Linked DNA regions of Homo sapiens: region 1 is linked to region 2. Evidence: fine-mapped QTL for protein levels in blood plasma. Region 2 holds a variant in brackets. A gene starts in the other region. All regions are shown on their forward strands.

Region 1 (11,036 bases), not on the chromosome of region 2:
TGGTTATGTAAATATTATTGGCACCGGACCTACACAGCATAATCCTATTTCTTTCTCATGCAAACTTTTTCTTCTTCCTTAAGTTAATAATTGCTTAATTTCTCTTTTTTTTAGTTTTCTCTGTACTGAACACAAATCACTAACTTTTATAGAGCTCTAAAACTTTTTCCAGTATCGTCAAAGTCATCAGGTAATGTATGTTTTATTTAATATTTTTGAAAGTGCTCTTTCTTGAATCCCCCATCCTCATGATTCATAATATGATTGCTCTCTCCATCTCAATCTTCCCTTTATGAATATCATGGGAATTCCCCTCTTTTCTGTTTCACATTTCCTGTTTCTCAAACTCAGTGTTTTACCCTTTCTTGGTTTGCCTGTTTATTTGGTAGAACTTATATTCCAGGAGTTTCCAGTGAAAGTTTAAGAGGAAGAACATTTTTTGAGATCTTGCATATCAGAAATATTTCTATTTTAGCCCCACACCTGGCAGTTTGGCTGGATATTCAATTCTAGTTCTAGCTAGCTAGTTCTAGCTCCTCAGGATTTTGTAAGTATTGCTTCATTTTCTTCTACCTCCCAGTGCTTTATCTGAAGAGTTCAGTGGATTTCTTACTCATAATCCTTTCAATGTGACATAATTTTCCAGAGAAATTTTGGGGATTGCTATTATAATAAAACTCATAGGAGATACTTGTTTTCTCAATGGTCTCTGCAGAAATTACTCTATCTTTTAGTATTGAGTATTGCTGTGGCAAAATATGAATGACCCTGTTTATTCTGTCTTTGTATGTGACTTGTTTACTTTGCCTGAATTCCATTTACTCTGTCTTCATCTATTATGTTCAGTAATGTCACCAGGATATGGTTCAGTGCAGGCTATTCAGCATCTTTTTTTTTCTTTTTCTTTTTCTTTTTTTTTGCTGCCAAGTCAAGAAGTTCTTTATTTCAGGAAATCTTCCTTGCATTTTTTTATTCAACATTTTTTTTACTCTCTTCTTCAGATAGGAAAGAAAAATTATGTGTATTGGTCCTCTTCTTTCCCTATGTGTATAAACTTTTAAATAATTGTCATGTCTATTTCCAGTATTTATCCTTTTCTATTTCATTTTGAGTGATTTCTTCAGGATAGAATATTAAGTACCTGACATTATTTATATCATTTATAATTGCCACTTTTGTTGTTTCCTGTAACTATTTTATATTCTCTTCATCTCTAGAGCCCTTCAAGTCTATTTATCATCGTTTCTGATAGTTTCAAGTTTTTCAAGAGCTTATATCACTGTTTTGGAACACTTCATCTTAGTGATTTTTATTGTTCATAATTTCTGAGATGATAGGTAATTATTGTCTGAACTCTTTTTCTTTTTTATTAATTTTTATTTATTATTTATTTTTTGTTATACTTTAAGTTCTGGGATACATTCTGTGCAGAATGTGCAGGTTTGTTACATAGGTATACATGGGCCATGGTGGTTTGCTGCACCCATCGGCCTGTCATCTACATTAGGTATTCTTCCTAATGCTATCCCTCCCCTAGCCCTCTACCCGCCGACAGGCCCTGGTGTGTGATGTTCTCCTCCCTGTGCCCCTGTGATCTCATTGTGTCTGAACTCTTTTTCTGTCTTCTAGTACAGTTTCTCTTGTGATATAAATTGTTTGTATTTTGATTGTCTTATTTCCCCATTTTCCCCCAAAATATCTTTTAAGGATATTTTTTCATTTTATTCATATATATTTTCCAATTTCTATTATGACGTATCATTGCTTGCTAAGATTATGGTTATCTTGAATGGGGTCAGTTTAGGAATATCTGAAGAAAGGACACAGGAAGAATGAACTAGTAAAGCCTACAGCGTTGATATAAACACAGTTGCCTTAATAAATCTCTATCAAATCTGTACTTACTTTTTCCACAATCATGTCTCTCCTTAACTGTCTGAATCAATATATTTTGAATTTTTTCTGGGTAATTATCAGGATCCAGGTGTTTGGGGCAGCACACAGTAAAACCCCTCATCTCATCAGCTCTTAGTTGTATTATCTGGTGACTTCCCCTTCTTTTCCCTCCTTTACCAAGTTGCACATCTGACAGTGTCCTCTCTCAAAGGGGAAAAATTACAGATAATCAGAGTAACACGTTGGCCTGATTTATCTTTCAATGAAGATTTTAAATCATATCTCTAGTACAATATTTTAAAATCACTTATCTAGTTATATTCCATGTTGTGACTCTAGACCTGACAAAAAGGTAATGCATAACCTGTATTACATCAAGGAATTCAGTAAATATCTTTGTCTTCATGTGTAGCATATTTTATATTATCTGATAAATATGCTTCATAGTCTGTGATTTTCAAATACATTCATATCCTTGTTCCAAGGAAGATGTCATCTTGGTGGTTTCTTTTTTGCTTTCATTCTCAATATTTCATCATAAGGAAAAGCGTGAAAATCCTTTTACACTGGAGTAAATAGGAACCACTTTCAGAGAAAACAGTATACCCATAGGATATTTAATCAGGAAAAATATAATTACTCTAATATACTAAAATGTTTGTATAAATACAGGTAATATAACTCCCCAAATTAACTGTAAGATAATACTTCTTCTTAAGTGTCAGCCAGTTAAGTATTTTGGAATATTTGCCAAGAATTGTTTTTATGTTAGGAAAGTTAACCATAGCTTTTCTTTTTGTCAATTTTTTAAAAAGTTTTTGATTCTTACCACTCTACATGTGTGGCCATGAGCTGTGTGTTTTGCAAACAAAAGAATCTAAGCTTTTCTACTGTTATTGAGGATGGGAAAAGGAACAGGATGATGACTGCACTGAACTAATTCAATAATATAACCAAATCATTGATAAGTCAAGGTGCATATTAAAAAGAATATAGAAATGGATCAAACATATTCCAGAGTGGTTGTTTAATTTTAATGAAAGGCTTTAAAAATGTTTACATAGTTTTGTACTCTTTTACTCCTTTTGCCTACATCTTCTTATTTAGGTTTTTCCCATTCCTCTGTGTAATAAGAAATAATGGTTTTACTATTCTCTTTTTGTAGAGGAGTAAATTTAGGGTCCTCAAATTCACATTGCTAGTAACAAGCTTAAGTTGACATTACAGATCCCCTGTCTTCAATCTCCTGACAGTTGCCTCAACAAGGCCATCTAAATATACACTTGCAATCAGCATTCTAGGAAAATGAATAAAATAGCTTCAAGTGCCATAAAATGCAGATTTTTTTGAACACAATTTCTTCTCTTAATTAAGTTAAAATTTCCCTGTAATATTATTTGCATCATTATTTTGTGGCACAATACAACATAGCCTACAAGTGCCCTGGCTTTGACATCAGGCAGGCCTGGGATCAAAATTAGGCTTTCTCATCTGGGACCTGTATGTGATTTTGGGTAAGTCCTTAACCCTGATAAGTCTTAGTTTTATTATTGGTAAATTAGGATACTAATATTTATTTCACATTGATCTTTTCAAGTTTGAGTAATTGTATGTGTGTGACTCAAACATATAATTGTCTATCCAGTATCTAATACTAATTATCTTTTCAAATATCACAAACTTACCTTGAAAAGAAGTTATAATTAGTGGATTTAGGAGCAGTAAAACTATTTCTACTTTATAGTTAAGAAAAAATGGGCACAGAAATGTTGAAAGACAAAATTAGAATGTCTGTTCAGATTAGGTTCTCCAAGCAGTACAAATCCATAAAAAAAAATTGCCTTAAGTTAAAATTTTATTTCTTTCATAGAGACAGCAATCAGAAGTAGACAATCTAGAGCTGTAGAGACTAGAAACCAAAAGTCTTCTATTTTATTGTTCTCCTACCTTTTCTTGCTCCTTCATAATCTAAGACAGCATCAGTCTCTAGTTACATTTACATTCCAGCCAGCAGAGGAAGAAATAACAAAGAATAAAGGACAAGGTATAAAGGAGATTCCTTGAAAGCTGCAACTTAACAATTTGGCCACAGCTTTATCAAGTAGCTACATCTAGCAGTGAGACTAAATAATATAATCTCTATTCCAGGAAGACTCTGTTGTGCTAAGGATTAAGGGTGTTCTTACAAAGAAATAAGAGAAGAGTGAATATCACGTTATGTAACTATCAGTGCATGCCGTGATATGTTTGATGTTCATTTGAGGTTTATTTGTAAGCGTCTAACTTATTTCCTCTTCTATTAATAATTTTTGCATGAGAAGATCCAGATTCTACTATTGACATTATTTCTTTTATATCCTTAACAAATATCTTTCCATCAAGATGTGCTCTTACTTTTTTCCCACTGTATATGGGATTCCAATAACTACTCCACTAGTGGACATAGAAGCAATGTCTAGATCTAGTTCCAGTATAGCTCCTCTTTAAATTCTCATTTGTATTTTGGTCTTCATTTAAAATCTTTCTCTAATATAGTTCAATATTTCTGTTTTATTTAACCTGTAACTGGTCACACTATTACATCAATGACTGTGGTGTGTTACTTTAATTTTTGAGGGCTTATAATAATCTTCTAATATCTGTTATGGAAAGTTTCCTTTCACTATTATTATCCATTATTATTAGAGTTTTTGTATTTTCTTCATAATTTATTTTTTAGGCAAATTTTAGCCTCAGTCCTAAAAATCTTTCCAGAAAGCACATCTAAAAATCCTGTTAATATTTCTCATTTATTGTACAAATTTATAAATTAACATGTTGATAATGTTGAGTCTATTGAGAAACATTGTATGACTTTAAAACTGTTCAATTTTTTTGTAGTCTTAGAGATTTTTCCAAACAGATCTACCATAATTATACATTTATATGTTGGCCCTTTTGTTGACAATAAAATGAGGACTTTTCTTCCATTTTCACCTATTATATTTCCCAATTGCTTTTATATATAAAAGCTATTGATTTATATATAGTAATTTAGTTCTTAACCACTTTAGTAAATTTTTTCTTTGTAGTTACCCTTCTAGTTTATTCTCTTATGTTTTCTGAACACTGTCATATCATCTATAAGGGAAAGTACTAGCACATCTTCATTCTCAATTTTATACCTCTAATTTATTTATCTTTACTAACTTTATTGTTTGGTATCCTCAAAGAAAAGTTAAATGATTATAATGCTGGTGGTCATTTTTATTTTATTTCTGACCTTAAAGGAGTGCTCTTAAGATTTCTCCATTGAGAACAATCTGGCATTTGGTTTTAGAGTAACACATCTTACAGTACATATTCACGTATATATTCTTATAAACATTTAATATACTTTTAAAATTTCCAGAATGATTGCATTCTTGATCTATAGTAGCAATTCCTACCATTCCCTTTTATATTAATATATCTGGAAAATTTATTAATTATCAAATGGCTATTGGGTAAATAATATGACAGGAAAAAAGAGTGGAATCATGCTGTAGGATGTTTAATGTGGACCATGCCAGGAACAAGCAGTACCAGTGACCTACTATGAAGCATATGCATCTAATTGTGTAAATAATTGAGATTTTCAGATGCATTACCTATTAATAAGGCAAGAATTTTTACTATGTGTGAATAAAACTTCAATAACAGTGGTTGAAACAAGAGAGTGGGGTGTTTCTTGCTCAGGTAAAACTCAGATATAGGAATTCAAGGACATCTCATGGCTCCACAGCCCTCTGGGACTCAAGCCACCTCCAGCTTTGCATTCTGTCATCCCTAAGATAGTGCCTTGCGTTTAGGGGTCAGAATTGAATTTCAATCATCACATCAATAATCCAAGCCACAACATGGAGGAAGGGAAGAGGAATTGACATGTGCCCTTCATTTTAGGACATGTTCCAGAAATTGTGGATACTATTTCTATTTATGTCTCTGTGGTCCACACTTAGTCACATGGTTGCTTGTGTAAAGCAAATTGGAAATTTAGCCTTAATTCTGGGAGACCATATTCCCAGCTAAAATTCTACGATTCTTTTACTAATAAAGAATGAAAAATAGATATTAAGAATTAACTAGCAGGTTTTGTTCCAGCAGGCTGACTTTCATTATTGAATTGAGCTAATTAGATATTCTTTAAGCTTCTTTCTTGAAGCAGAACATTGTATTACAACTGGATCACACATATTTTTAGTACACATTTGAAGATTATTATAAATCCTAGTATTTCCATCTCCAGCTATTTAATATTTTCCATGAAATATGTTAAAGTATTTTTATTAGAGGGAAGCATTCTAAAGCCATTTGTGATGTATTTTGTAATCACAATGCAGCCTGGGAAACTTCTGGAAGGTTTTTGTTGATAAATAGTTTTATCTAATACATTATAAACAAGCCTAACCTTGTATTTAGGTTCTGACACAGTATTCTGACGCTGAAGAGTCTGGGAAATTTAATTGTCCTAAATGTTAGCTAATACATCAATTTCTTCTACATTTTCACCCTATCCAGGAAAACAAAAAAGCAAAGTGTTGATATGCTGTGAGGTTAGCAAATATCATGACTTCCTCTTCCATTCTCCAATAAAAGCCCTGCTACGATCGCAATCCCCAGCTCTGGCACAATGGCTTTTCTTCCTTCCTGGGTTTGTGTACTAGTTGGTTCCTTTTCTGCTTCCTTAGCAGGGACTTCCAATCTCTCAGAGACAGAGCCCCCTCTGTGGAAGGAGAGTCCTGGTCAGCTCAGTGACTACAGGGTGGAGAACAGCATGTACATTATTAATCCCTGGGTATACCTTGAGAGAATGGGGATGTATAAAATCATATTGAATCAGACAGCCAGGTATTTTGCAAAATTTGCACCAGATAATGAACAGAATATTTTATGGGGGTTGCCTCTGCAGTATGGCTGGCAATATAGGACAGGTAAGAATGACTCTTGTTTTCATTGTAATGATCTACCGATAGACCTATGAAGTATTTGGGAAATTGGACTCTGTATATACCCTACTATGTTTTTAAAAATTGATTCTTTATCTTGTTCTCTTTTCCCTTATAATCATTGTTTTTCTACCTATCCTTCTCCTTATCCACAAATCCTTCTTTTGTGGGTTGTGTGTTATTATTAGAAGCTTCAATGAGGCATAAGACATAGTTATCAACTGTGAAAAGACATCACATCTCATCTATTGAGCATTTCACAAATATTTGTTGAAGTTCTACTAAGTGCCACACTCCTTTCTAAGCAATGAGATGAACAAAACAGTCAAGGGGATATACAAAGTGATGTCCAATTAGTTTGAATTTCTTGAAGTTCTAATTATGATATGAGGTTATAAAGAAGCATCACATTGTTCATGAAGATCTTTCTCTGTAAAATGTTTGCTTCCTCTTGGAAATAAGGTACCTTACAGTGTATAGACAGAAGTTACATTTTGGGATAAAATATACATGAATTGAAAGATACTTTTGTTCTGGTTGATAGAAGCTCATGAGAAAGAGTGGTGCCTGTTGCCCACTCCCTGCTGATGACACAGCCAATAAAGAAATTATTGTGTGTGAGAGAGAGGTTAAGAAAAGAGCAATTTCATTTGGAAGAAAAACAATGATTATTTTCTAATATTTACATAATGCATATTACAGGTGAAACACCTTTGGTGCTTTTTCTCACCTCACATCACAACCTTATAATGTAGTTAATATTATTATCCCCATGTCATAGATGAGAAAACTAAGGCATTAGAGGTTATTTAGATAAAGTCAAGCTAGTAAGTGGTAGAGCAGGGGTTTGTTTTGACTCTCGACCATCTCTTTTCATCTGTATGCATATTGCTTCATAGTTTCGATTAGAAGGTAGAGGAGGAAATAGAAGAGAGTATCCTTACAAAAGTAAATAATATTTAGGACCTATAACTCAAAAGTAGAAAACTGTGTTGTTAAGGAAAAGGAAAGAAATTAGAAACTAAAAAATAAAAGATAAAAAAAGAATGATGGGAATACAAACACATATCATTCAGAAATAAATGCTTTTGTATCTACAAACAAAATCTATGTGGTTAAGCAATAGTTACAGCCAGTTTCAAAATGCGTATAATAAATACGACTGTGCATCCTCTCTCCTCCAGGCAGATTAGCTGATCCAACCCGAAGGACAAACTGTGGCTATGAATCTGGAGATCATATGTGCATCTCTGTGGACAGTTGGTGGGCTGGTATGTTCGTTTAAGTGGCAAAATAGATATTAACCTTTCCTGAAAGAAAGCATTCAAACCTAAAATCTTAGGGACAGAGACAGAACTAAAATAATCCTGTTCCTATTTTAAAAAGGAATCTATTTCACCGTGTACCTTATGGCCTTTAGGTCACTTTAAGGGATTTAAGAGCCACAATGTCAATAATGATTCCTTAGGACATATCCAGCTTTTCACAGAAGGACGAAAACAAGGTTCTGCAAAAGCAGTGGCCTCTGAGGGGCCAGCTCTGGTAGTTAGGTGGGAGGTCCAACTGATGACAAAGAATCTCCAGAATAAGGAACGATGAGAAGTGAGACATCAAGACAAATGATGCTTTTTCATTTTGCTCAGACCAGATGTGGTTAATATTGAAACCCATAAACATGCCAGAGATTAATACCTACTGCAATTCATTATACCAATCAGTAATCTCAGGCTTTAATCATATACTTAATGCTAAAATAACCAGAAGGTATTTTCTAATTCTTTCATTTAATTTTATGCTTTAGTAATGAAAACAATTTATACCACAAATCCTTAGAGGTATTTCTCAATAGTTAGAAACACGACCACATTAAATTTCACTTTTTCAGGGCAACACACATCATATGTATCCTTAAGCATTTTCCACTTACTACCCCTAGTTCTTTTAAAAGACTCGCGAATAGTAGTGGCCACAGATCTAGAATTCAGAGTTTGTTATTCTTAGATTGGTTTAGTAGTTTGGAGGATTAGCCTGCTACACTGTGGCATAGGATTCCATTCACAAATGCCTGTCTAGGATGAAATATTCTACATCACTGATTTCTAGTGGAAATCAGTATAAGCCTAATATCCAACTAATGAAAATGTCTGAGTCTGCTGGAATAGGTGATATATAGGTAAAATTTTTTAAAATGTGAAAATAGTCATGTTTGATTGTCAGTCTAATGGTCTATTGTCAAAACTTACCCAAAATTTGTGCTTTAAAGGATAAAATAAGATAAAAATTTAGTGATATCATGATTACAAATTAAACTTATGTGTATAAAATAGAAAACATTCATTTACCAAAGCTATAATCATGTTAAAATATTTTAGAGAAAAATACAAGTACAATTCACAATAAAACCGTAATGAGAGGTTTTGTACCATTTTGTGGAAAAGTTGATAGCTTTCTTCCATTCTTACTTAATGCTTTGAAAAAATGAATATTATGATATCCATTAAAATTACTTTTTGTTTTAAAATATAGTCAACTACTTTAGCCAATATGTTATATATTTATGACTATAAGGTTATTAACAGAAATGCAATCAAAGTTATATATTTGATCCTTAGGGGGATTTTTGTTCAATATTTTTTTCCTAATGGTTAGCTTTTATAATGTTTCTGGGTCTGTGAATTTTTTTATGACTTATGCCTTCCTTAAAAATATCCTCTTTGAAATTTGTTAGTGCTTGTAGTAATAGTAAATCTTTTGTTCTTACAGATTTGAATTATTTTCTGTCTTCATTACCCTTTCTTGCTGCGGTTGATTCTGGTGTAATGGGGATATCATCAGACCAAGTCAGGCTTTTGCCCCCACCCAAGAATGAGAGGAAGTTTTGTTATGATGTTTCTAGCTGTCGTTCATCCTTCCCTGAGACAATGAACAAGTGGAACACCTTTTACCAGGTTCCTTCTTTATACTCTTACGAGATAGGAAGAGAGTTTATTTTGTCATATAATTTCGTCTAGGATTTTTTTGTGCATTACATAATATTTTCCTTAGTATGCAGATGTAAATTGCTATGCATGATATATTAATAGTATATTGTAGAGTGTTATGAGTCATTAACACCTACTGCCTCAATACAGCATTAACATAAATCTATCCATTCTTCTTGCCTCAAATACATTATACAAAAATGGTGAGCATACAGGATATTTTGCTGAATGATTAATAAGCTATTCTGATTAATTGAGTCTTCATGTCCACTAGGATATTGGAAGAAATTTGACTAAAATCAATGAAGAAAAGATATATTTACTAGTACTTTAGTAGATTATTGCATTAGTTTAGATCTAATGAAACATTTTAAGAAGATATTTTTGTTACTCACGATTTTATGGTAATTTTAACAGTGTTAACAGGAAAAAATAAAGGCCTGATCGGTATAAAATATAAACTCTGAAAATACTTGAAGTTCAATACTTATAGATGCATATGCTATTATTAAAACTAATGAATATTTTTGTGTTATTTAAAGAGTGTTAGGCATTAAGGCCATATACATACTTTTTCTTAGAAATAAAATTCTTCTTTTATGTACAATATTGCTAAAATATATCTGAACATGACTAAATTTCAGGGAGAAGGATTTTATAGTTGCTCAAATATTAATAAATTTGACCTCTTTACCTTAGTATTTGCAGTCACCTTTTAGTAAGTTTGATGATCTGTTGAAGTACTTATGGGCTGCACACACTTCAACCTTGGCAGATAATATCAAAAGTTTTGAAGACAGGTAAGAATGAATCTTTAAAGTATCTCTATTTAATATGATAAATAATTTTGGGCATTATTTATATATTTTTCTTCTTCTTCTAGAGTGTTTTTCAATCTTTATATTAAATAATAAGCCTAACCATTGGAGATTATAGTGAGGATGTGTAAATATTTTAACATGATCAGGCTTAAAAAAGTGTTTTATGAAGAAGGGGAAAATTTTGAGAAAAAAAAGCCTTGCATGAAAAAACAAAAAAAAAAGCAACAGACAATACATTTTCCTAAATGTAGAAAACAAAATATAATATAAATATGTAGATGACCTTTATTATTTAATCATAGACACTGTTACAAGAAAAACTATAGATAAGATAAATGTAGCAGAATTCACTTAAGCAATGAATGATTCAT
Region 2 (10,911 bases):
CAGTGTTAGCCAGGATGGTCTCGATCTCCTGACCTCATGATCTGCCCGCCTTGGCCTCCCAAAGTGCTGGGATTATAGGCGTGAGCCACCGCGCTCGGCCGGGAAGGGAGCTTTTTAAAGGAACTGCAAATATTAATATTTCGGAATAATGGGAGAGAATGGTAAGCAGGTGAAAGACAAAATCAAAGTTTTCAGTAACCAGGACAGGCACTGGTCAGTCAGAGGAACATGGGCAGTAAGTGACCAAAATGGACATACCAGTGCATAGTGGATATCCGTTCTGCCCATATGCAACTGGCAGGATATAATTCTGAAGACGTGCACAGAGGCCAGTTTATAAAGGGCCTTGTGTGTTTTAAGCTGGACTTGGTACAGTCAGCAGTGGGATACTTCTAAAGATATGTGACATAAGTGACACTCAGATTTGGTTTTAGGAAGATCACTGTGGCCCCAGTGTGGAAGGCAAATGAAAGAGAAGCAAGAGGCCGGGCGCAGTGGCTCGCGCCTGTAATCCCAGCACTTTGGGAGGCTGAGGTGGGTAGATCACGAGGTCAGGAGTCCGAGACCAGCCTGGCCAACACAGTGAAACTCTGTCTCTACTAAAAATGCAAAAAATTAGCCGGCCGTGGTGGCGCAGGCTTATAGTCCCAGCTGCTTGTGAGGCTGAGGCAGGAGAATTGCTGGAACCCGGGAGGCAGATGTTGCAGTGAGCGGAGAGTGTACTGCACTCCAGCCTGGGAGACAAAGCAAGACTGTCTCAAAAAAAAAAAAAAAAAATTGAATTTTGAGTATCATTGTATCTTGAGCAAGTAACTTATCCTTTTTAGGCCTCAATTTCTCCCTTGATAAAATGGAGATCATGTTCACCATTTTGTCTTTAGGCCCCATCACAAAGCCTGGCACATAAATGCTCGAAAAACAAAACATTTGTTAAATGAATGGGAAGGGGAGAATGTCATCTGTAACTATCTTACAGGATTGTCATGAAGATCAGGGAGATAGAGTTTTAGAAAGGCTTCTGTGGCCAGTGAAATGCTATTCAAGGATTAGCTGATTATCCTTGACTGGCATGTCTTTCCAGCATTTTATATCGTATATCTTTTATTTGAGACACTAGTTGTTAAAATTATTCATTGAACTGTCCAGAGGGTCTAATTATTTGGCCCCTCGGCAACTCAGAAGGCTTGGGCTAGCCTCCCTAGATTGGGCTGCTTTTGTGGTACAGTGTCCTGGAGCTGGTGGAGAACCTCCTGACTCTTGAAGTTATTCTCTTTATTTGACTGGCTATGGCCTTAACTTCCAAAGTTAGGGCTTTCTTCCTTAGCTTCGTTGACAAGGGATTTGTTCAATGAAAACCACATAACTCAGGAGGCCAGGCACAGTGTCTCATGCCTGTAATCCCAGCACTTTGGTAGGATGAGATGGGAGGATCGCTTGAGCACAGGAATTCGAGACCATCTTGAGCAACATGGCGAAACCCCATCTCTACAAAAAATACAAAAAATTAGCTGGATGTGGTGGCACATGCCTGTAGTGCCAGCTACTCAGGAGGCTGAGGTGGAAAGATCACCTGAGCCTGGGAAATCGAGGCTGCAGTGAGCAGGGATTGCGCCACTGCACTCCAGCCCGGGTGACAGAGCAAGACCCTGTCTCAAAACAAACAAACAAAAGACAAAAAGCCCCACATAACTCACCTCCTTGGGAATGAATTTGTTTATTTCTTCCCTTTCTGAGAGCAACATTTGATAAAAGACATGCTAGAATGTAAGAGGCTTGGAGGCCACCAGGAAAAAAAAATGTAGAAAGGTGACCCTATAAGACCTTCAGACTCCAGAAAGTTTTGCATCTATATTCTGCAATGTGTGTAATTTTTAAACTTTCCTTTCCACTTGCTCCAATGTCCTTTAAGATAAAGTGACTCTATTAGGAGATCGGTGTGACTTCTAGAACAAACAAATGACTCTACATCCTTACAAAATGGGTGATCTATAATCCCTCCAACCCCAGCCCCAGCTCTAGAGTTAGATATTCCAGGTTCAGATCTACACTGTTTCACTTACCAGCGACGTGGTCTCGGGAGAAGTTATGAAACCTCCTTCTGCCTCCTTGCTTTTTATCTGTAAAATGGGGGTATTAAGAGTAGCAAGCTCAAGTGTGAAAACATGATGCATGCAAAACTAATCTATGCTGTAGATTTGACTGTTTCCCTTGTTGAGGTGGTCACTGGAAAGGGCCATGCAAAACCTTCTGGAATGCTGGTCATGTTACTCCTCTGGATGTTGGTTACATGGATGTGCTCAGTTTGTGAAAATTCATCAAGCTCTCTATGGTATGTACACTACTGTATCTATGTTACTCTTTTAATAAAAAGTTTAAAAAATATCCACGTAAAGTACTTGACCATTGGCATATATGGTAAGTTACTGTCAGCCATTATTCTTATCTCCTGCTGAATGATCATCATCTAAGACTTTAACATTATTCCCAAACACAAGGAAAATGAGGAACCAAAAAAAGACATGCTCGCCGAAGGCAGGCTTGACTGAGCACTCAGTGGCACGGCTGTTTGCACTAAAGCGTTGGGTAATTTCTAAGTAGATTATTTTGGCTGTTGTCTCTTATGCACAAGAGATTCCCTCTATAAATGCTAGAGCACATTTAGAATCAGTTGCATTTCCAGAATTTCTCTCCTTAGGGGAGTGTCTTATTTGGAAAGGGGACATTAGGGGTTTATTGGGAAGCTGAGTCTGCATAGTACTCTATATAAGATTGAGAAAGGGTCAAATGGCCAAATTTGAATGGGGGTGGAGGTGTGAGGGTGGTGAGGTCGACGGAAGTAAAACTATCTCATGGTGCTGTCAGTTTGGAATAAAGGTCGTGAAAAAGGAGCGGAAAAATCCCAGCAAAACCAAACTGGCATGGCCCAGTGTTATCACAATACCATTAAGTGCAAATGTTTTGACCCAGCACACCCCCAGCAAGGTCATCTCAGAAAAAACTGGGCTTCAGTGACATCTCTTAGCTGCCTTAGAATGACTAAGGTTATTTAAACCTCATGGTTGGTTAATCATTAATGAAGATTTTTGACAAACAAAGTAGAACGAGCCAAGAAAGAAGGGTGGCTAAAAATTAGCCTAGGAAAGGTCATATTTCTTGCATATGCAGGGATTAGTGTTGCTTTTGTTTCTGGTAACTGTGCAGAATGGAGTTTCAAGGAAATATGATCCTGTTGGGGAAGCCAATGTGTCTCTGAAGATTTTACTTAGGATTCTCCTCCACTGTATTAGTCCATTCTCATGCTACTAATAGAGACATATGCGTGACTGGGTAATTTATAAAGGAAAGAGATTCAATGGACTCACAGCTCCATATGGCCAGGGAGGCCTCACAATCATGGCAGAAGGTGAAGGAGGAGCAAAGGCATGTCTTACATGGCAGCAGGCAGGGCAGCATGTGCAGGGGAACTGCCTTTTATAAAACCATCAGATCTCATGAGACTTACTATTGTGAGAACAGCACGGGAAAAACCTGCCCCCATGATTCAATTACCTCCCACCAGGTCCCTCCCATGACACATAGGGATTATGGGAGCTACAATTCAAGACGAGATTTGGGTGGGGACACAGCCAAACCATATCATCCACCCTCAGTCATCTGGAGGACTATAGGCCTCCATCACCTTTGCTGAGAAGCCTGCATTCCTGTCCCATGGGGGGTTTACGTAGGAACAGTGGGGACACCCACATGCAGCTGCTGTATGACCCAAGAGGAAAGGGTGAAGGTCCCAGAGGCTGGAACCTGGACCTGCACAAGAAACAGGTGGGCAGCCCTAAAAGCTTTGATTGCTGCTATAAACTCCTGGACAAGCTCAGAGTTGGGAGGCATCCCCCCCTGGGGCCAGGAAGGCAGCAGGAAGGGAGTTTTTCACTAGGGGCAGCTCTAGCTTCAGCAGTGTAGATAAACGCAGGGCTCCACCATTTCCTGAAAGTCCTAAGAAGGAATGAATGATTGAGGGTTCTTTCTCTGTGATTACTGGCTCCCCTAGCTTCCTTGTCATAGGGACCAAATCTCTTCCTCCCACAGTTAACACAGGGCCATGAACCCTATTTAATGTTGAACAGTGCAAAGGTTGGATTTCTTCACACTTTCTCCTCCTTTAAGGCAGCCACCCTGAACTGATTTCATGGACTTGATGATACCGTGTTCTTTCCTCCGGGCCCAGGCATTTCCCGATCCCTTTTCCCCCTACTCATCTGCCTAACTCCTATTCATCTTGTAGATCTCTGGCTCGAGCCTGGGTGTGTGCCCCTTCCATAAAACAGTCTTATCATGCCTGGGAGTTTCCAGAAGGCAGAGGGTCAATTTTGTTGATTTATTTCTCTGGTGAATCCTGCATAGTTGGTACTCCAGCAATGAATGTTTATGGAATAAACAGGTGAATAAAAGAATAAAAAATTTCAGTGAATGAAAGAGTTAAAAAAATCATAAAAGGATTTAAAATGGAAAGGCTTGATAGAATTAACAAAGAGGAATGCAGTCACACTAGAGTTTAAAAAGGAGATGGGAAAGGAAATAACTGTCTATAACTCGTCTCATTTTTTTTTTTTTTTTTTGAGATGGAGTCTCCTTCTGTCACCCAGGCTGGAGTGCGGTGGCACGATCTCAGCTCACAGCAACCCCTGCCTCCTGGGTTCAAGTGATTCTCCTGCCCCAGCCTCCTGAGTAGCTGGGATTACAGGCTCACACCACCATGCCCAGCTAATTTTTTGTATTTTTAGTAGAGACGGGGTTTCACCATGATGGCCAAGCTGGTTTTGAATTCCTGACCTCAAATGATCCACCAGCCTCAGCCTCCCAAAGTGCTAGGATTACAGGCGTGAGCCACCACGCCTGGCCAACTCATCTCATTTTTATAATAACCTTATGAGGTCAGGATTATTATCCCTATTTTACCAGTTAAGAAACTGGTACTGAGAGGTAAGGCATCTTCTTCAAAGTCTCATGACTTGCAAGTAGCAAAGCTGGGGTTTCACCCCTAGGCATTCTGACCACAAACCCAGCCTATTTTAGTAGGCCATGGCACTTGCTCATACAGGTTAGCATTTGGGTAATCACATTTGTCCCCTAAATTTATTGGCATGAAGAGTTAGAAACAGGAATGCTGGGTACTAGTAAGTGAAAAGAGGAGACAGGAGAAAAGGCTGTACCCAGTCCAATAGCTTAGACCTTGGAATTGATGTAAAACATTTTGTGGATGTCCCCTGAGTCTCTTTCTATATTTAAACCTAATCCTCCCTTTGACCTTGGGGGTTCAGAAATGGTGAATGTGTCAAGGAAAAGGTAGGATAAGGTCAGAACATCTGTATCATCCTACCCAGTAGCTGAAGATGGATTTTGTTTTTAGGGTCATGGTGTCAAAACGTTATTTCATCTAAACAGCCATGCCAAAATGTCACACTTCCTATGACTTAAAAAATCAAATCCAAGGCCGGGCGCGGTGGCTCACGCCTGTAATCCCAGCACTTTGGGAGGCTGAGGTGGGCAGATCACGAGGTCAGGAGATCGAGACCATCTTTGCTAACATGGAGAAACCCCGTCCCTACTAAAAATAGAAAAAGTTAGCCGGACGTGGTGACGGGCACTTGTAGTCCCAGCTACTCCGGAGGCTGAGGCAGGAGAATGGTGTGAACCCAGGAGGCGGAGCTTGCAGTGAGCTGAGATCGCGCCACTGCACTCCAGCCTGGGCTACAGAGCCAGACTCCGTCTCAAAAAAAAAAATAAAATAAAAATCAAATCCAAACAAAACAAAACAAAAAACTCAAATACAAAGCCTCAGTGCCCAGAAGGCTTTATAATAAAGAAATCATATAAAAATTGAATATACAAGAAAAATCAGGTTATGTTTTCTAACTCTTCTTTCAATTAAGTTCTTTGCATGTTGTCATGACAGACATTTTTGGAATCAAAAAAATGGGGCATTTAGAACCTGGGACAAGGAGTCTTGAGTGTAGACTTTTTTTTTTTTTTTTTTTTTTTTTTAAGACAAGGTCTCACTCTGTCACCCAGGCTGGAGTGCAGTGGCATGATATTGGCTCACTGCAACCACTGCCCTCCTGGGTTCAACTGATTCTCCTGCCTCAGCCTCCTGAGTAGCTGGGACTACAGGTGCCACCACCATGCCCAGCTAATTTTTATATTTTTGGTAGAGATGGGGTTTCACCATGTTGGTCTTGAACTCCTGACCTCAAGTGATCCACCTGCCTTGGCCTCTTAAAATGCTGGGATTACAGGCGGCAGCCACTGCGCTTGGCCTTGAGTATAGATTTGAGTCCTATTACCAGCTGTGTGATCTTGACCAGTCACATATCTTTATCTGTCCTGCCTGTTTCGCTGAGTTCTTGACAGGTCCATCTGAGGTTATGGAAGCCTAACAGCCCAGTGAATCACATGATCATAGTCATTCTCCTCATGTGACACGCTATTGGCCTCCTCATTTTGATTGTTAATTCTTTTTCTAAAGAGATCAGTCTAACCTGAATGTGATCCTGCAACTTGAAGACCTTTTGTACTTATTTGCTAGAACAAGAAGATCAGCAGCTCTTGTTGC[T/C]CCTAAAAACACTGCCTAATAAGCTGTCATCTTGGGAAGTTTCCCAGTCTGTTCAGCCTCTAAAAAGGCCTTTATCCATTTAAGAGGAAGCAGGAAGTTAGAATTCCAAGAAATGCAGGTTGGGAGGCCACAGTCCAGGTTCAAATCTAAGAAGGTAAAATTCTTAATCACTGGCAAATCCAAGTGGAACTTTATTCTATTGACAATCCACCACCTTCCCTCCTGTCATCTGATTGGCTTTGATGATAGATACTGTCTGAAGTTAGTGATGATCTCTAGAGAAAAGGAAAGTGTCCTGTTAACCTTGCTATGCACGGTGAAAAGGAGAAACGAGAAGGTTTTGGTTTCAAATGCAATGACCAACATCAAGGTCATCCCAGCACTTTCATGAGACCATCAGAAAACTCAATGTACATCAACTCTCTCCATTTAAAATTCTGCGTGTAAAGCCTTTGGGATTATAAATAAACTTTGGCACTGAGGGTGGTGACAGGCTTTGTCACATCCTATTCCAATCCAGATTTGAGTATTATTTGAGTGTTCAATCTCCTACCACTTGAGCCAAAGTTTGAGGATACTCATAATTCACAATTCAGCTATGTAACCCATCTTTTTTTTTTTTAAGATGGAGTTTTGCTGTTGTTGCCCAGGCTGGAGTGCAAAGGCATGATCTCGACTCACTGTAACCTCCGCCTCCTGGGTTCAAGGAATTCTCCTACCTCAGCCTCCCACGTAGCTGGGACTACAGGCACCCACCACTATGCCTGGCTAATTTTGTTTGTATTTTTAGTAGAGATGAGGTTTCACCATGTTGGCCAGATGGTCTCGAACTCCTGACCTCAGGTGATCTGTCCGCCTTGGCCTCCCAAAGCGCTGGGATTAGAGGAGTGAGCCACCGCACCTGGCCGATGTAACCCATCTTCAATGGTAGTCCCAAGACAAACACATGACCGTTAACTTGCTGATTTCTCCAACGGAAAATATCGAATTAGCCAATCCTTTCTATGCTGTAAGGGTTTTCCTAATTTTTTTAGAAAAAATAAATCAGTATAAAGAAAACACAATTTAAAATAAGGTCTTGCGATTGCTTTAAAGAAAGCTTTATTTACTACATACATCCTAAGAATGTACTGTAAATGGAGCAAGATCTAAATAAAAGCTTTTCAAATATAAAGCAGCTAAAGTTAACTAAACCACTAGCAATGTTTGAAAACAGAACTCTAAAACTTTTTTTTTACATTTATATAGTTTGTTCTTAACACTAAAAAAAAAAAAAGTTCACATTTCAAGTTATAAACTTACCTCAGTAGTGTACATGAAATGGTTTTGAAACAATAGGAACAGATAAGTCCCAGATAGGAGGCTCACTGATACTTAATTGGCCATGTCACCAATGTTTGTTTTTAAGGGAGTTTGGTGGTTGCCATGTTATCATTTTTTTTTATTCTTTCTTTCTTTTTCTTTCTTTCTTTCTTTCTTTCTTTCTTTCTTTCTTTCTTTCTTTCTTTCTTTCTTTCTTTTCTTTCTTTTCTTTCTTCCTCTTCTTCTTCTTTTTTGCAAATAATTTACAGGCATATGTAAAATACAGTAAGAATACTGGGTCATAGTTTCATCCAGTGAAACTCTGTGACAATCCTTCACTAGAAGGAGAGTACTTTTTTCACACAGTCAGGGGATGAGGATCTGATCCGAATTACATTTTGTCGAGTCACTCATTCCCACAGATTTGAGTTTGAATGCAGCTTGTGGGGTACATCATCAGGAACATTGCACAATTATTTTATGTCATTTAAAAGAATGATGGAAAGGAATGTTAGCGGTGCTTAAAGGCCTCAGTAGGCACTCAATAATTTTATAGAATAGTTAAATAAATATTGCTTACACATAAAAACTCATCTCATTTCAAGATGAGGGGGAAAAAGGCATTTGGGAATCTCTTAATTTAAAACAAAACAAAAGTACTTGCTAAGGGCATGATCCTCTTATGAATCCACAAGAATTCAGCCATCAACAAAAATCCCGTGAGTGGAAAATTGTATGGATCTCTAACATGACATAAAAACGCAACTGCGTTTTACTTGCTACCTTATTGCACACCTCACTTCCTTGATTGAGCCTTTAAAAAACAATTCCAAGTTGATATTTTTTTTTAAAAAGTAGATGACAATCTTAACATTTTACTGTATTTTACATTCACTCTGCTAAACAAAAGCCTTTAAACAGGCACAAAACACTGCAACAATACATTAACTTCCTAATAAAACAAACCTTTTTAATAACATTGAAATAAAATGGTTTCATTTTGCATTAAACTACATACCATGAACTTCTCCAACATAAAAGGACTAAAAACAAGCATTAGAAGATATTTACAAACTATCTTTAAACTTCTACAGGTCTCTCCTCCTCCTCCTGGATGTGCACACCCCAATCCAGTTCACCCATCAAGTGCACAGCAAAGGAAGAGAGGCCCATTTAATAAACATAATGTTTCCAACACCCTTGAGGACCATGGACAGTTTTGCAAGAAACATGGTAAGGCAACTAGAAGCATAACTTTCTGCTGAAAAGAGTCTCTGGGGGTCTTGTCTACGATAACATACATTCTTTGTCCCTACAAACTCATACTTCAAAAATGAATAAAAGCATTAGAAATGGCATTAAAGTTTTACATTGGGCAATTAAATAGCTATGCAAAGGTGTCTTATGCAACTCGATTAAAACCTTGTGCTTACTCTGCTACTGAAAATAGCACACGTAGAAGACAATACTTCCCCAACCAAACAAAAAAAAAAACAAAAAACAACGAAACAACAAACCCCAACAAAAACCCAGGAAGAAGTATAAAAGCCACCAGCTCCTCTATCAGAGCTACTTATCAGTCCTAGGCTTGCCAAACATTGCGGTGGGATTGGGAATCTGGGGAGGAGGGGACAGGGTGAGAGATGTGGGAGTGGGGGCATGTTTAAGGCTAAGGCACATGGAGAATGAGCCCCGGCTAACGGTGGCAAAGGAGAGCTTTCCAGTGTTTGGACTCAGAAGTGCGGCAAGTCTTTTCAATGTTGGCTTAAGGAGAGATCCAGTGTTTAATTTCTTTTAAAAAATAGTACCGCCATGATGATACATGGTAACACCATCAACCCTTAATGCCAGCAGAAATACAGAGGTTTTACTCATTTTAAAATTGCACTTTCCAGTATAACCTTTAAAATAATGCTTTATGTAGTATTTTTAAGCACTACTGTTTGTATCTTTAAATATTGTATATATTTTTCAAAATAGTTCCCTAGCTCCTCAAGTGTGCTTTTTTAATATATAGTTGATATATTATTGAAGGTACTACAAAATAGAAATCTCTGGAGTGCAGAAGTTAAGAAAATAACCTTCATACTGAAAATATATCCTTAAAAAAACAACAACAAAAACCTCTATACAAATGTAGTACAGCATACAAATTTTTAAAAGATGGAATGAAGGCACGAACCATTGCAAGTCTTTTGGAAATGTATGAACGTAGGCATGCTAAGTTGAAAATAGTCTTAAAAAACTAGTGAAAACTTCATGTATATAAAATAATTCAGAAATAAATCTGCTAACATTCTTCACTTTCAGGTTGCATGTGTGAATCCAACATGTTCCTTCTTCATAAATAGTCAAGCGTTCCTTCAGTGGTGTTTGTGTGGTCTGTCTTCGTGCTGGTCACCAGCCTCAGTATGTCTGGTAGACGTCGGGGATGGGGACCTGAATGGCAGCAGCAGGGAAGGCCTGAGGTATGTAGCCTGCGTATCCTCCATACATGGCGGCCGCGGCTGCCGCGTTCTTCTGTAGTGTGGCGATCGTGGCTGTAGCTGGAGCAGCAAATGGCACGTAACTGGCCCCGTAGATCCCGGCAGTAGGAATTCTCTGAACGTTTGGAGCCACCGTGTATACTGGAGTTATTGGGCGGCCCTGAGGAGAAGAGACAAAAAGGAGCCTTCCTGAACACGTGTATGTACCTATCATCCATTCATTCAACAAGCCTCTCCCAGAAGACGGGAATACAAAGACACAAAAGCAAGGGAGAGAAAGGCAGAGGGGCGGGCAAACAGCAATTATTGTAAGCAAGTGGGAGAAGAGCCACTGAAGAGGTAAGGTGGAGCTGCATCCTCAAACTCAGTGATGCCACCTTGTGAAAGTGAGAGGCCTGGAAGGCTGAGGGAAAGGTGAAATACAGTTGCCCCTCAGTATCCTCACAGGTGATTGGCTCTAGGACCTCCGTGGATACCAAAATCCTCAGATGCTCGAGTCCCTGAGAGAAAATGGCG

Direction of the effects. Positions count from the first base shown, and alleles are read on the strand shown. Strength reflects both the effect of a copy and how common the allele is.
For the plasma level of the protein whose gene starts at base 6,536 in region 1, allele C in region 2 goes with a lower level than allele T (weak association).

Evidence for each region. A credible set is the group of variants that fine-mapping cannot tell apart. PIP is the chance, under the fine-mapping model, that this variant and not a neighbour inherited with it causes the effect. The UK Biobank Pharma Proteomics Project read protein levels with antibody pairs (Olink). The fine-mapping took linkage between variants from a reference panel, not from the people measured, so its PIPs are less certain.
Region 1: C6orf58 starts here. The variant in region 2 is the best candidate, but not a certain one, in a credible set for the plasma level of the C6orf58 protein (UK Biobank, PIP 0.55).

Annotation. Positions count from the first base shown.
Region 1 is chr6:127,570,639-127,581,674 of GRCh38, forward strand. C6orf58 (chromosome 6 open reading frame 58) reads left to right here and starts at 6,536. Exons shown (of 6, transcript NM_001010905.3): 1 at 6,536-6,848; 2 at 8,048-8,134; 3 at 9,627-9,811; 4 at 10,544-10,644. The coding sequence starts at 6,548.
Region 2 is chr4:40,415,589-40,426,499 of GRCh38, forward strand. It overlaps RBM47 (RNA binding motif protein 47), which reads right to left. Exons shown (of 7, transcript NM_001098634.2): 7 at 7,692-10,555. The coding sequence ends at 10,316. It overlaps RBM47-AS1 (RBM47 antisense RNA 1), which reads left to right and starts at 10,545. Exons shown (of 2, transcript NR_199039.1): 1 at 10,545-10,594. RefSeq lists enhancers at 2,997-3,141, 9,834-10,911 and a cis regulatory region at 3,062-3,075. The variant T/C (reference allele first, on the strand shown) is at 6,608.